Linked DNA regions of Homo sapiens: region 1 is linked to region 2. The links come from fine-mapping of genetic effects on gene expression. A gene starts in region 2. The other region holds a variant in brackets. All regions are shown on one strand. Distances are between the middles of the regions.

The links. PIP is the estimated chance that this variant, and not a neighbour inherited with it, causes the effect.
Region 1: its variant is fine-mapped to the expression of TLCD4-RWDD3 in whole blood (INTERVAL, PIP 0.97).

The regions. Positions count from the first base shown.
Region 1 is chr1:95,215,864-95,218,770 of GRCh38, forward strand. All of the region lies in intron 6 of TLCD4-RWDD3 (TLCD4-RWDD3 readthrough), which reads left to right. All of the region lies in intron 2 of RWDD3-DT (RWDD3 divergent transcript), which reads right to left. Among named protein-coding and RNA genes, the nearest start is that of RWDD3-DT, 17 kb to the right of the region's middle. RefSeq lists an enhancer at 752-1,252. The variant G/A (reference allele first, on the strand shown) is at 1,519.
Region 2 is chr1:95,116,345-95,119,251 of GRCh38, forward strand. TLCD4-RWDD3 (TLCD4-RWDD3 readthrough) reads left to right here and starts at 1,579. Exons shown (of 8, transcript NM_001199691.1): 1 at 1,579-1,747. It overlaps TLCD4 (TLC domain containing 4), which reads left to right and starts at 1,011. Exons shown (of 7, transcript NM_152487.3): 1 at 1,011-1,273. RefSeq lists silencers at 1,018-1,164, 1,092-1,371, 1,452-1,501.

The DNA of each region.
Region 1 (2,907 bases), 100 kb after region 2:
TGGGGTTTTGGTGTGGATGTCCTTTTTGTTGATGCTGATGCTTCTTCTGTTTGTTAGTTTTCCTTCTAACAGTCAGGCCCCTCAGCTGCAGGTCTGTTGGAGTTTGCTGGAGGTCCACTCCAGACCCTGTTTGCCTGGGTATCACCAGCGGAGGCTGCAGAACAGCAAATATTGCAGAATGGCAAATGTTTCTGCCTGATCCTTCCTCTGGAAGCTTCATCTCAGAGGGGCACCCACCAGATGCCAGCCAGAGCTCTATTGTATGAGGTGTCTGTCGGCCCCTACTGGGAGGTGTCTCCCAGTAAGGCTACCCGGGGGTCAGGGACCCACTTGAGGAGGCAGTCTGTCTGTTATCAGAGCTTGAACACCATGCTGGGAGAACCACTGCTGTCTTCAGCGCTGTCAGTCAGGGACGTTTAAGTCTGGAGAAGCTGTGCCCACCACTGCCCCTTCCCCCAGGTGCTCTGTCCCAGGGGGATGGGGGTTTTACGTATAAGTCCCTGAGTGGGGCAGCTGCCTTTTGTTCAGATATGCCCTGCCTACAGAGGTGGAACCTAAAGAGGCAGTCTGCCTTGCTGAACTGCGGTGGGCTCCACCCAGTTCGAGCTTCCTGGCAGCTCTGTTTACACTGTGAGCATAGAAGCTGCCTACTCACACCTCACCATGGCAGACGCCCCTCCGCCTGCCAAGCTCCAGCATCCCAGGTTGATCTCAGACTGCTGCACTAGCAGCGAGAATTTCAAGCCAATGAATCTTTGCTTGCTGGGCTCGGTGGGCATGGGGCCCACTGAGCCAGGCACTGGAGGGAATCTTCTGGTCTGCTGGTTGCGAAGACTGTGGGAAAAGTGCTGTATTTGGGCAGGAGTGTACTGTTCCTCCCACTACAGTGTCTCTCACGGCTTCCCTTGGCTAGGTAAGGGAAATCCCCTGACCCCTTGCGCTTCCTGGGTGAGGCGGCGCCCAGCCCTGCTTCGGCTTGCCTTCTGTGGGTTGCACCCACTGTCCAACCAGTCTCAATGAGATGAACCAGGTACCTCAGTTGGAAATGCAGAAATCACCCATCTTCTGTGTCAGTCTCACTGGGAGCTGCAGACCAGAGCTGTTCCTGTTCGGCTATCTTGGAAGAGTCCTCCTGCCACAGACTTTTAAACCATCAGATATTGTGAGAAGTTACTATCATGAGAACGGCATGGGGGAAATCTGCCCCCGTGATCCAATTACCTTCCACCAGGTGCCTCCCCTGACACATGGGGATTACAATTCCACATGAGATTTGGGTGGGGACATAGAGCCAAACCATATCAGAAGAGTTCCTCCTCAAAGAGTTCATAGTCTACTTGCAGCCACTTCCACTCTCCACTTGAATTCAAAAAGTTTCAGTTGATTTTTCAGATGACATGTACAACCAGATGCCAAGCTGGAGTTTCTCCCTTCTTTTAAGATCTAGACAGAATTGGATAGAAACACAACCCTAGTTTGATAGCCTATAAAAATCCAGACTTTCCCACAGTTTATTGA[G/A]AGAACCCAGAGGTAAAACTTGGTCCTTCTCTAATTTTCACAGAAAACCACCTGCACAGAGATGCTGTCTATATCTATTTGTAGACTTACTGTTGTAAACGAAGATAAAGGAAGAGATGATGTAAACAGGGCAAACCCCTCTGAAAGGAACTGTGGGCTCTTGCTTCCACAGATTAGCTCAGTATCTTGATCTTCTCACTGTCTGCAGTGCTGTATCCATCCTGCAGTACACACTGTAATTGCCATCCATAAGCTCAGGCTTCCCAAATGTGTGCAAGAGAGCAGCACCTGAGCTACATCTAATCAGATCCCTATTTGAACTCTCTTTTAAAACAAGTAAGGCAAAATCTTCCTTCTGTCTGGAGAAATCTCTTGTTTAGTGTAAATGTTTAATAGGTAATCATATAAGTAACATTAAAAAACATGCTGAAATGATTAGACAGGATAATAGACAACATAAAGCAATGTTTAATTACTTGGTAAGTACTGGCTGTGTGCCAATGTAGAGATCAACTATCAGGTGTGTGTATGTGTGACTTCCTCCCATTCTTTACATTACTTAAAGTCACTGAATCACATAAGCAATAATATAAATGTGTTTAGTATTTTACTTATATATAAGACAAAAATTGCCAATGCTGTCTAGCCAAAGACCACCAGGAACACACTTGTTATTGAACAAGTTGGATCTATTACTCTGGCAGTAAGGAAGAAGGCATTCCATGGGGAACATCCTCTTATGCTGGCTGCCACTCACCCTACATTTGCATAACTTAGAAGTTTATTCATATAACCCTTCTGAACAAGAAGCTCAAGTTCTATCACCTTTTAAAAGGCAAAAATAAAAAATGGTGAAAGGTGAGTATCTTGCTATATTAGTAAACGAGAAGGAGAGATAAAAGGAGAACCAAGGAGACTGTGGTAAGGAAACTGGAAGTTTTAAAGTAGTGAGTGATCAGTACTTTCAATCTTCCTCAGGTTAAGTAAGATGAAGACTGAGGAGAATCCACTGGATTTGGACTTTGAGTCACTGTTGGGTAGACACATGACTGCAGTGGTTTGAAGAGTGAGTGAGAGGTGAAGTAGAGGCTGCACTTGGCCCTCAGTATCCATACACTGTGCATCCATGTATTCAACCAACCTCAGATTGAAAATATTTTAAAAAATGTGCCTATATTGAACATGTATAGCTTTTTTTTCTTTCATTATACCCTAACCAATGCAGTATAACAACTATTTACAGAGCATTTACATTGTATTAGGCATTATAAGTAATCTAGAATGATTTAAAGTATATTGGAGGATGTGCATGGGTTATATGCAAATACTATGCCATTTTATATCAGGAATTTGAGCACCCTTGGAGTTTGGTATCACAGGAAGGTCTTG
Region 2 (2,907 bases):
CATGGACAGCTTATATGAGCTTTTGTGTATATATTTTCTGGTCTAAATCTGCGGCAGATATGTGTGTCTTTCTGCGCATGTATATAGTAGATCAAATATGTTAGCTCTATTGACATTTCTTAGAAATAAATATCCTGTTATCAATGATAGTGTTTACAAATTATTTATTTAGAACTTACCTCTTTTCAAGAAAAGGCCTTGTGATTGCTCTCTGCGAATTATAATGCATGAGTATACCTCTTTGTTATTTTGTTTTGTTTCAGACAATTATCTCTGGTTGATGCAGATCACTTGGAGGCTTTTGGGGCTGTATATAACAGGTCAGAACATCTATTTAATGTCAAACTTTATCTACTAGGCAACTTGGAATTCTCAGCCAGCACCAAATATTCAAATCCAACTTCCACACCCCGACAACAGAGGGGTTCCGGGTGTAGGTGTAGTGCTGGTGCACCCATGAGGGTGTTTTTCAGGAATTCTGGAGGTGGTGCTGGAGAGAACACGCTTCTTCTACACGCGCCCCCTACCAGTTTGGTATGCACCTGCAGCCCCAAAGAAGAACTGGCGGGACTCGAGTGTGGCCGTGTCAGACGTGGCAAGAAAAACCAGCAGTTGCCTTTTCATCTCTTTTCTGATGATCTAACCATGAAGTCCCCAGTATTTGAGCATTTAAGGCAGAATGTAAATTCATAATTTAAGAAGATTTTTTGTTACGTGGCTAGCCCAGGTACTGACCGCTGCGGGGGCGGGCTCACACAGTTCCCCCGCTGGCAAGTTTTGTGACTTGCTTTGGAAAACCCGGGAATTGCACCCTCTGCCCTTGGCAAGGTGTGAGCTTCCAGGATCTCTCCGCTGCGACTTCGGGTGTTAGGGTTTTTGGGCTCTTTCCGGGACCCAAGTTCCAGGGCAAGAAGGTCTGCTCGGCGGCCCGCCTCGGGGCCCCGCCCACTTTGGCCAGGGTCGGAGCCGCCCGGAGCGGGAGCCGGAGCCCGAGCGGCCGCGGCCCCTTTAAGGAGCAGCTCTGCGGTAACCCGAGCCCGCAGTCCGGGCGGGCGCGACGGCCGCCGCGGTAGCTGGAGCCTCCGCGACTGCACCTCCAAGCGGCCCGGAACCCGCGGCTTCCCTGGCTCCCGTGAGCATCTCACCGGGCGGCACTGGCCAGCGCCAGCCCTCGGGCCGGCCCGGATGAGCAGACTCCTGTAGACACCCGCCGCCCTCTCCCGGCTCGGCGCAGCCGCCGCCCGCGCGCGACTCGCCCCGGGACCCGGCACAGGTGACGCCGTTTGGAGGGGGGGTTGGGGAGGAAGGCGGGCTTGCCTCGCCCCGCGGCTCCCCCGCGCCAGCCGCCAAGCGCAGCCCGCGGAGAGGGGTGCCGCGGCTTCCCGCCCCTGGCCTAGCGCGGCCGAGAGCTCCTGCGCCTGGAGGCTGGGTGGGCGTCCGGCGCGCGGGAGGCGGCCCGGGGCTCCCGGGCGGGCTCCGGCAGGTGTGTGCGGAAGGCTCAGCATCGTCCCCGCCCGGCGGGCCACGGCGTCGCTCCGGGAGCAAATGGTGTCCCGGGGCCCGCGGCCCCCGCGCCGCCCGGGCGCCCCGCATTCCTCTCGCGTTTCTCGGGCTGCACGATTCCGGCTGCCCTGTCTGCCTGGCGGTGCCTCTCGGGTCTGAGCTTAAAGCGGGTGGGTGCAAACCTTTGGGCATCCAGGGAGAGCTTTCTTGTTAGAGCCCACACACAATCGGGCGCATCAAGTGGGTAAGTCCCCCTCCCCCGCCGCCACCTTCTGAAACAAGTAGCTCTTATTTACCCTTGCAGTTCTCAAGTGGGTCCCATTTTTAGCCACTGAGTGCTGAAAAGTCTAGTGGGAAGGGACCAGGCGTAGAGTCGGAGGGAGAAATTGGTTTCTATTTCCATCTTTACCTCTGTAACCCCTAAGTGCCTCGGTTTACCCAGCCATGAAATGGGATTCGTAATGCCAGCAGTTTCCTACCCCTCCAAGACGGCAGAAAAACCTCTGTGAAAACACTTTGAGTCTAAATTCATTTAAGAGTCGCTGTTGCTGGTCTGTATATTTTTAATTGTACACACATTTGAGTGTTAATGTGGTGCACACTTTTATATGAAATTATGAAATTTACTTTAAAGACTGATCTTGGATAATGTTTAATCCAAATACCAGTTTGGAGAAGATGGAAGAGTTTGTGTGGACCCTAGGAATTGATGTGTGAAATAGGAAAAAAGATTTAATAAAATCTTTACGCAGTCATAAATGGAGTTGAGAAAAATTGACCTTGGATTGTGGTGTTTTAAGTGAGTTACTCCCGTGCCAGCGCATGGTGTCGATTGAAATGTAGCTTCATCTTTGTGTAGCCGATTAAGGTAATAAGTTAGAGAATCCCAGCTCCCTTTTAATTGTGCTATATATGAGGAATTTTTATCCTTGCTTATCTTTTCCTTAAATTGGGCGAAACGAAATTAGAAAAGTGTATTCCCGCCGTGTTAGAAAATATGAAAGAATGGGTGAAGAACCATGGATTTTAGTTTATTTGCCACGCCCCTCCTGTGCCATCTGATAACCCAGAGAATATTTTGAGGGTGCTTCTTTTTTTTTCTACGCCTGCAACTCCTTTTGTCCCATTACCTCCCTCTGGAGTTTGAATCTTTACTGTCCTCATCCTTGAGATGAATTTTATCTGTTTAGGCTGGATGCCTCTGACCCAGCTGCCCAATCAGTCATTATTTATTTACAGTATTAGATTTCCATTTATATTCATTTCACTCTAAGCCTTCTTTACCCTGGTGGAAAGAATAATGGGTCTTTGCTACTAATGCTTTATACTTGGAGGTGAACTAGGAATGGCATGCTCAAGGTGCTGAGACTAATGCAAACCCCAGGGAAGCTAGGTCTTCACTGG